Linked DNA regions of Homo sapiens. The protein of the gene in region 2 purifies or fractionates together with the protein of the main gene of each other region. This does not show direct contact. Each region holds a gene or a part of one and is shown on either strand. Other genes may lie near its edges.

Evidence for each region.
Region 1: the proteins of ABLIM2 (region 2) and ASXL2 purify together in Homo sapiens (affinity purification with mass spectrometry; one large-scale study listed by BioGRID and IntAct). This does not show direct contact.

Annotation. Positions count from the first base shown.
Region 1 is NC_000002.12:25,742,178-25,746,191, forward strand, and holds part of ASXL2 (putative Polycomb group protein ASXL2), read right to left. Parts: intron 2,300-4,014; coding exon 1-2,299.
Region 2 is NC_000004.12:7,970,314-7,973,813, forward strand, and holds part of ABLIM2 (actin-binding LIM protein 2), read right to left. Parts: exon of another isoform or gene 2,641-3,500; intron 103-2,640; exon of another isoform or gene 1-102. UniProt on the Homo sapiens protein: May act as scaffold protein. May stimulate ABRA activity and ABRA-dependent SRF transcriptional activity.

The DNA.
Region 1 (4,014 bases), on a different chromosome or scaffold from region 2:
ACGCCTGAACAGGAATGGTCTGGCCATGGCTGCTGGGATTCATAGCTTGGCTAGCAGGGATGGTAGTGACAGTCACTGAAAATGACATGACATCACCTACATTGCTAGATACCTGGCTACCTGGTACAGCAGAGTTATGGTCCATGTCAGATGAGGTGGAGACATTGATCATGCCTCTATAGCTTGGCCCTATCTGGGTGGGGCTTCCATACAACTTCGGGGTTTGCAGGGGTGGAAGGAGTAGGGGCTGGTGGGTGGGGCTGTCTGCAGGCAGAGGAAGAACAGTAGAACTGAAAAGCTCGGGGCTGCTACGGATTGCCTTACCTCTCACTGCATGAGCCATCTGCTTCTGTGCTGCCTGAATTAAATCTCTGGCTAGGGTCTTTTCATCAAATGTTTGGCCTCTAGTGAACAGGTAATTCTCCTTACTTAAAGTGGTTTGCTCATTCAATGGTATCTCAGCCTTCACATTCTTGCTAGCTAAGCAATCACTGGTAGATAGAGTTTCCCTGCTGTGAGGTCCTGAACTTGTGTCACCCTTGCCAGCACTCTGGGAAACCTGGGGCTCCTCTTTCACTGTGACAGATTCCTGCTCATCACCAGTACTTTCCTCATCAGTGTCATCTTCTTTGCTGCTGCTACTCTCTCCTGTTGCATTTTTACAGTCTGTATATCCCATTTTCAAGGCTTCAGTGGGGCTGCTTAGACAAAAACGATCTTCAGGGTTTACAGAATGGGTCCTCCTAAAGCTCTCTGAGCCCCGGCCGTAGGTAGAAATATTCAGTAAGTAGTGCCCTGCCATTGCAGGTTTGGATGTCCTTCTGCCAGCAAAACCCAGCATGAACCTCTGGCTTGTGGAGATGTCTTCCAGCTGGAAACCTGAGTGAGCGAAGTTGAACTGTGAGGGCGGCACAACTGAGAGAAGATTCTGCCTCCGAACCCTCTGAATGAGAGTCTGAAGGATCTGATCTTGGGTTGCTTTACTTAGTCCTTCGTGGTATTGGTGTGTGTCAATGCTGGAGTCCCTCAGCTCCTTAGCTGAAAAGAGCTGAAGGGGCCTTGGAACCTGGGGGAGCTGCTTACTTTGCAAGGTTTTGCCCAGCTGCTGCTGCGTAGCTGGATGGGACTGTCTCTCATTAACTTCCTCTCTGGTGCTATTTTCTGTTGTGTTGGTAGCTATGAGCGCTCCCATCCCCCTTTCCTCTTTTGCAGTCAGTGGAACCGTTTTCATTTCAACTTTGGTGAGAGGTTTAGGCAGAATTTGCTCCATGGGAACATCTTTGCCTTGAAGCAGCTGAGTCACTAAAGGATTATTAGCAGGGATACTAGAGGTTGGTCTTAAAGTGGGTCCATTCATGTTTAAAGAAGTTCCTGGGGTTTTAAGGCTAGAAGCTGCTGGCAAAGTGCTCGAGGGTGGAGCTGATCCAGCAGGTGCTGTAGTTGCACTGACCTGGGGTACAGGAAGCTTTTCTAAAGTGGCTGTGGTCAATAAAGATGTTAAAGGGGAGGGAGTTACAGCCACTGGCACACTAGCATCTGTCTTTGATGAGGCTGAAGGGTTAGGTATATTCTTACTAGGACCTGCTTTGAGCTCAACTGTGCCATCAGCTGCACAATGAACAGGTGAGGCACCTGAGATTAGAGCAGGACCTGTTGGAGAAGGTGCTTTCTCCTGTCTGCAACTACTGGGCCCTTGTGGATGGCTGACAGAGGCCACTGTGGCTGTTGCTCTGGTGGGGTTCAGTTTTTCATTATCCAATTTCTCTATGTGGGCTGGTGATGGGACACTTGTGCATGCTCCACTGACGGCAGGTGTTGGAGGCACTGGGGGGGTTTGCTGTAGTTGTGCTCCAGAGACACTATGAGGCTGTGCCTGGCTTGGGGTGGTCTTGGTCTCAGACTGGGGCTGAGTCTCTGGACCACAGGGTAAAAGCTCTCTCGTACCTCCCCTGCTTCCAGTTCCTGCCAGTTCCAGTGTGGGGCCCTTTCCAGTTTCACTGACTCTGTCTGAGCCTGGACTGCCTCCTCTAGCAGTCTGCCCTTCACCACCCTCTCCTGGACCTTGTCCACCCCCTGGGCCAGGTCCTGGAATGGTCCCTCCAACTGAGGCGGCTGCAGCAGCTGCGGCGGCAGCGGCAGCTGCTGCCCTCTGTGCTTTGACCAGTTGGGCTTTTGCTTTGATGTCTGCAAGAGTTCTGGCTCCTGTTCTGTTAGGACTAGTGATGGAGACTGGAAAACGAGCCCTGGGAGAGACCTGCGATGGATGAAACGGCATGGGGGAGATTCTGGAGACCGGGATCTGAAAGAAGTAGAGGGGAAAAAAACAACAGAGCTTAGTTTTCATTTGTAAGAATAACAAAACTTCATTAGCCCTCACATTTTAAAAACAGATGAACACTACAGTACCTGTGACAAACATGGGTGGTCTATGGCCGAGAGGCCAAACCTTGGAGACAGCAATACTAGTTTGTCTCTAGGGTCCTTGCATCCACTTTTTCTATTGGTGCCAAAGACGACTGCTTCCACTCTCACCCCAAATCCCCACACCTCTTTTCCTATCTCAACTCCCTCCTAATGCCACTATTACAAGTGCTTATTATGATACAAAGTTTTCTATGGTATTTGCATTTTTAAAAAGTGTATTTATGTTTGAGAAAGAAGAGAAAAGCAAGCAAGCCAGCCACCCATACCACTACTGTCTTTTAGTTCTTAGCTTTACTACCAAGGTCCAGGGGAAAATACTTGCTCTTCTCTGTTCCACACACACACACACACACACACACACACACACACACACACACACTTGGGCTGGATTATCTCAAATTACACAGGCTTCTAGACAGCACTGGAAGGAAGACAATGTGTGATCTATAGGAGCCCCCACCATGCCCATACACATAAAGGAGTATGTACATAATGTTTGCCAGCCATTCTCATCTCTGGCTGGTATTATATTTACTTGCGCAATTTTAAAATATATATGCTCTGGGTCCTATCCCAAAAAATTACAAATCAGAACCCCCAAGACCCTAGGAAGTCTTTTTTTTTTTTTTTAGATAGGGTCTTGCTCTGTCTCCCAGGCTGGAGTGTAGTGGTGTGATCTCGGCTCACTGCAACCTCAGTCTCCTGGGTTCAAGTGATTCTTGTGCGTCTGCCACCCGAGTAGCTGGGATTACAGGTGTGGGTCACCACGTCTGGCTAACTTTTGTATTTTTAGTAGAGATGGGGTTTCACCATGTTGGCTAGGCTAGTCTTGAACTCCTGACCTCTTGTGATATACCTGCCTCGGCCTCCCAAAGTGCTGGGATTACAGGCATGAGCCACAGCACCCAGCCTGAAAAAGCCTGGCCAACACAGTGACTCCAGAGGGAGCCTCCAGCTCAAAAAAAAAAAAAAAAAAAGTTTCTAAAAAGCTACTTGTGAGATTCTGATGTCTATCAGGTTTGAAACCATTGATTTCCTTCTTTTTTTTTTTTTTTTTTTTTTGAGACAGTCTCACTCTGTCACCCAGGCTGGAGTGCAGTGGCAGAATCTCAGCTCACTGTAACCTCTGCCTCCTGGGTTCAAGTGATTCTTGTGGCTCAGCCTCCCGAGTAGCTGGGATTACAGGTGCCTGCCACCACACCCAGCTAATTTTTTTGTATTTTTAGTAAAGATGGGGTTTCACCATGTTGGCCAGGATGGTCTCGAACTCCTGACTTCAAGTGATCCACCCACCTCGGCCTCCCAAAGTGCTGGGATTACAGGCGTGAGCCACCACGCCTGGCTGAAACCAATGATTTTCATACCATAAAATCATCATGTCTGAAACAAATCTGCCTTCTGTCCTGAACAATACTTTGAAAGCTATTAGAGTTACTAATAATTCAACAAGATGTGGACTCTTCTAGTAACTGGTTGAGTTTAAAGGAGCAAATAACTGTTAAGATGTTCTAAAGCATTTAATTAAAAAAAAATTAACCCACTAAACCCTAAGAAAATGCATGCCATTTTTCTTAATGTTTTTAAATTAAG
Region 2 (3,500 bases):
CTAAGGGAGGGGCGCAAAGGTGCTGGTGGGCAGAGGGAAGGTGTCAAGGGGGTGGTGTGCCCCCTGCCATCTGCAATCGTGTACTTAAAGGGAGGAGGACTGGTGAGTGAGTGGTCTCTTGGGTTTAGCTGGCATCAGGTCTTTGCTGGAGGAGGGAGGAGTGGAGAGGGAGCGGATGGTGGGCAGGCGTGCCCCGCATGCTGGGGAAGGAGAGAAGGGCAGGCTTGAGGATGACACCATGTGCTCCAGGCTGTGGGAGCCTCTGGGGAGGGCGATTCGAGGAAGACTTGGAGCTGGCGGGCAAGCAGGAAGGCTGGCAGGGTGTTGGGAGGTGGGTGTGGGAAGCAGAGGTGCCCTTGGGGATGACTGTGGGGGGGCGGTGGAGGGAGCATCTGGGTGGCTTCTGAAGTTGCTGGGAATGGTTACCTTCTCTGGGAGTGTGGCACTGGGACTGGGACGCTCCATCACCAGAGGCCCTGGGGAGCAGCCTGGTTGGGCAGACCACAGCAACAGGGAGGGGCCGGGGGTGTCCCGAGCATGTGGGCTGGGCCAGGCCACTCGTATGTGGCCTACAGGGCCCAGGACTTGGGGCCAGGGGTCTAGGGGGCTGACAGGGACCACCTCCCCGCAGGCTCCAGTCCTGTTTTCTGTCTGCAGCGTGAGAGAACTTGGTTGCCTGGGTATCCGGAAGGCTGGGTGAGGGTCACATGAGGGGCTCTCCGCAGCAGGGGGTCTGTTCATAACTCTGGGCTCCAGCTGTGGAATTCTGAGTGTCACACCTCACCTGGCTGAGTCTCCACTGCCTCCTAGGTGAGAGGGGCTCAAAGGTCCTTACTCTGTGGCCAGCTGCAAAACTGGCATTCAATCTCACTCAGGGCCAGAGGCAGGCAGGCTTTCTCCATGGGTCTGCCAGGGCAGGCAGGGTGGGTGAGGCCCAGCTGACCCCAGAGACTGGGCCAGCTTTCTGGCCTCAAGCCAGCTCCTCTGACCCCAGGTTCCTGAAGGCCCTGCAGGAGTGCACCTCACCCCCAGGGCCCGCGCAGGACAAGCACAGCTGGAAGGAAGGAAGCCTGGGGTGGGGGTCTTTGCAGAGGGTGGGGCAGCCTCACTGCTGAGGTGCACTGGTTTCCCCAGGGAACATCCTGCAGGGAGGCATTTTTGCAGCATGGCAGGGGGACTGCCTCAGGAGGCTCAGGCTCAGAGAGGTTGTGTGACTTGCCCAAGGTCACATAGCCAGGAAGTGGCAGAGCCAGACCTGGGAGCCAGGTTAGGTGGCTTGACCTTTCCTCCACCCTTACTTCCTGCCTCCCACCTGGACCTCCAGGGCCATCTCAGGTTTGCGGTGAAGCCTCAGGGACCTATGCCACCTCCACTCCATCAGGGACAGGTTGCCCTGGCCTACCCCCCTACCAACCTCCAGCCCTAAGTCCCCTCAGGGTACTCCCAGCTTCCCTGACCCCACCAAGCTCAGAGGTACCCCTGGGAGGGACTCTGACACCTCCTTCCTCCACACAGCCCACCAGTCACAGCCACCCCTCTGTACCAGCACAGGGCTGGCTGACCGGGTGGGCCTCAGGTCCTAGCCCTGCTCAGCCTGGGCCCCCAGGGCCAGCAAGGGGCCACTTTTCTCCCAAGGCCTGGGCTCCGTGGTGCATTCCACCGGCTCACACTGCCTTGGCCTGCACAAGGAGGCCCTGCATACAGGGGTGAGTCTTGCTTAAGCCGGGCCCAGGCCCGGAAGCTCCAGCCCTCCCAGCAGGAGGTCCCTGCAGGACCTACAGTGACATCACTGTCATAATGACGGTGGCCATTGCCCCTCCAGGAGAGCCTTCCCTCCATACCCCGGGACCTCTTCCACAGCCTATGGGGCACAGAGGGGACAGCGGCTTAGCGGGGCAATGACGTGGCTGTCAGGTGGCCCCAGGGCCCTGCCCCTCCACAGCCTTGCACGCCTCTTCTCCACTCCTCTGCTGCGTGGTGTACTGTGAAAGCCCAGGGGAAGCACCATGCAGTGCTCCCTCTCCCATTCACCAGCAGCTCTTCGTCATCCTACTGGTCCTGACTCAAGTGTCCCCTCCTCCTGGAGGCCCTCCTAGATTGCGCTCACCAAGCAGGCCCTGGGGCTATGCTGTGTCCCTCAAGGCTGAGTCAGTGCTGACCTTCTCTGGCTCTCAGCACCATGAGGGTGGGCACAGGCCTGTCTGCTCACAGCACTGTCCCATCCTCACTGAGGGACAAGATGTCTGGTCTGCATTGTGAATCTGAATCTGGGCTGTCCCCTCTGCAGTGCTGCCTCCCAACACCTCCAGCTTCCACTGCCTGTCCTGCTCTCTGCTGTGGCGCCACGGGGGCTCCCCCGCCACTGTCCTGGCCTACGAGGCCCCTGCATTTGGCCTCTGCCTGCCACTCTCCTGACTCCCGACGCTTTCTCCCAGCCACACAGTTCTGCTTGTGTTTCTCTTCCTTGTCTTGGCCAGGGAGGCTGGGATTCTGGTGCAAACCCATCTCTCAGACACACCCATGTGGCTCCAAACCTCCTATTGTCACCCTCAGTCTACCAGGACACACCCTCTCATCAGACCAGTTGGATGAGTTTAAACAAAGGAGATATTCTTTCACTGTGGGGCCCTTATTTTTCAGGCGCATTCCAACAATTTGGGCTCTCACTGCTTGAGCAAACCCTGGTGTGCATTTGGCCTCAGGGCCTGGAAGACGACAGTTCAAGAAACCACAGGACTCCAGCAATGAGCTGCTCCCCTTGCTGTGTGTGTGTGTGTGTGTGTGTGTGTGTGTGTGTGTAGGGTGAGGGATGGCAAGTAGGAAAGGAATTCCAGGAAGAATAAAGTGCATGTGCAAAGGCCCTGGGGCAGGAGGAGCCTTGGCTGCTGGAGGAAGCATAAGAAAGCTGAGGTGTCGGCTGGGCACAGTGGCTCATGCCTGTAATCCCAGCAGTTTGGGGGGCTGAGACGGGTAGATCAGGAGTTCGTGACCAGCCTGGCCAACATGGCAAAACCCCGTCTCTACTAAAAATACAAAAATTAACCAGGCGTGGTGGTACATGCCTGTAGTCCCAGCTACCCGGGAGGCTGAGGCAGGAGAATCACTTAAATCCAGGAGGTGGAGGTTGCAGTAAGCTGAGATTGTGCCACTGCACTCCAGTCTGGGTGACAGAGTGAGACTACGTCTTGAAAAAAAAAAAAGAGAGAAAAAAAAGAAAGCTGAGGTGTCTGGACCTGAGCCGGGAAAGGTGAGGACAGGATAGGCCCTGCAGGGCCCTGGACCGTGTTAAGCAGTTTGGTTTTTAGCCTAAGAGCAATGGCATTTATGACTAAGTGTGCAATTTACAAAAACTCCTGTGGCTACGGGGTTGTTTTCCTGCTAAGCCCTGCCCTGCCAAGCAAGCAGAAAGGTCTCAGAGTGTGAATCCACGAGCCATGGACCGGGAGGGCCTCAGGCCAGACAACAAGTCCCTTTCCACCCATCCACCTTGCGTTCTGAGA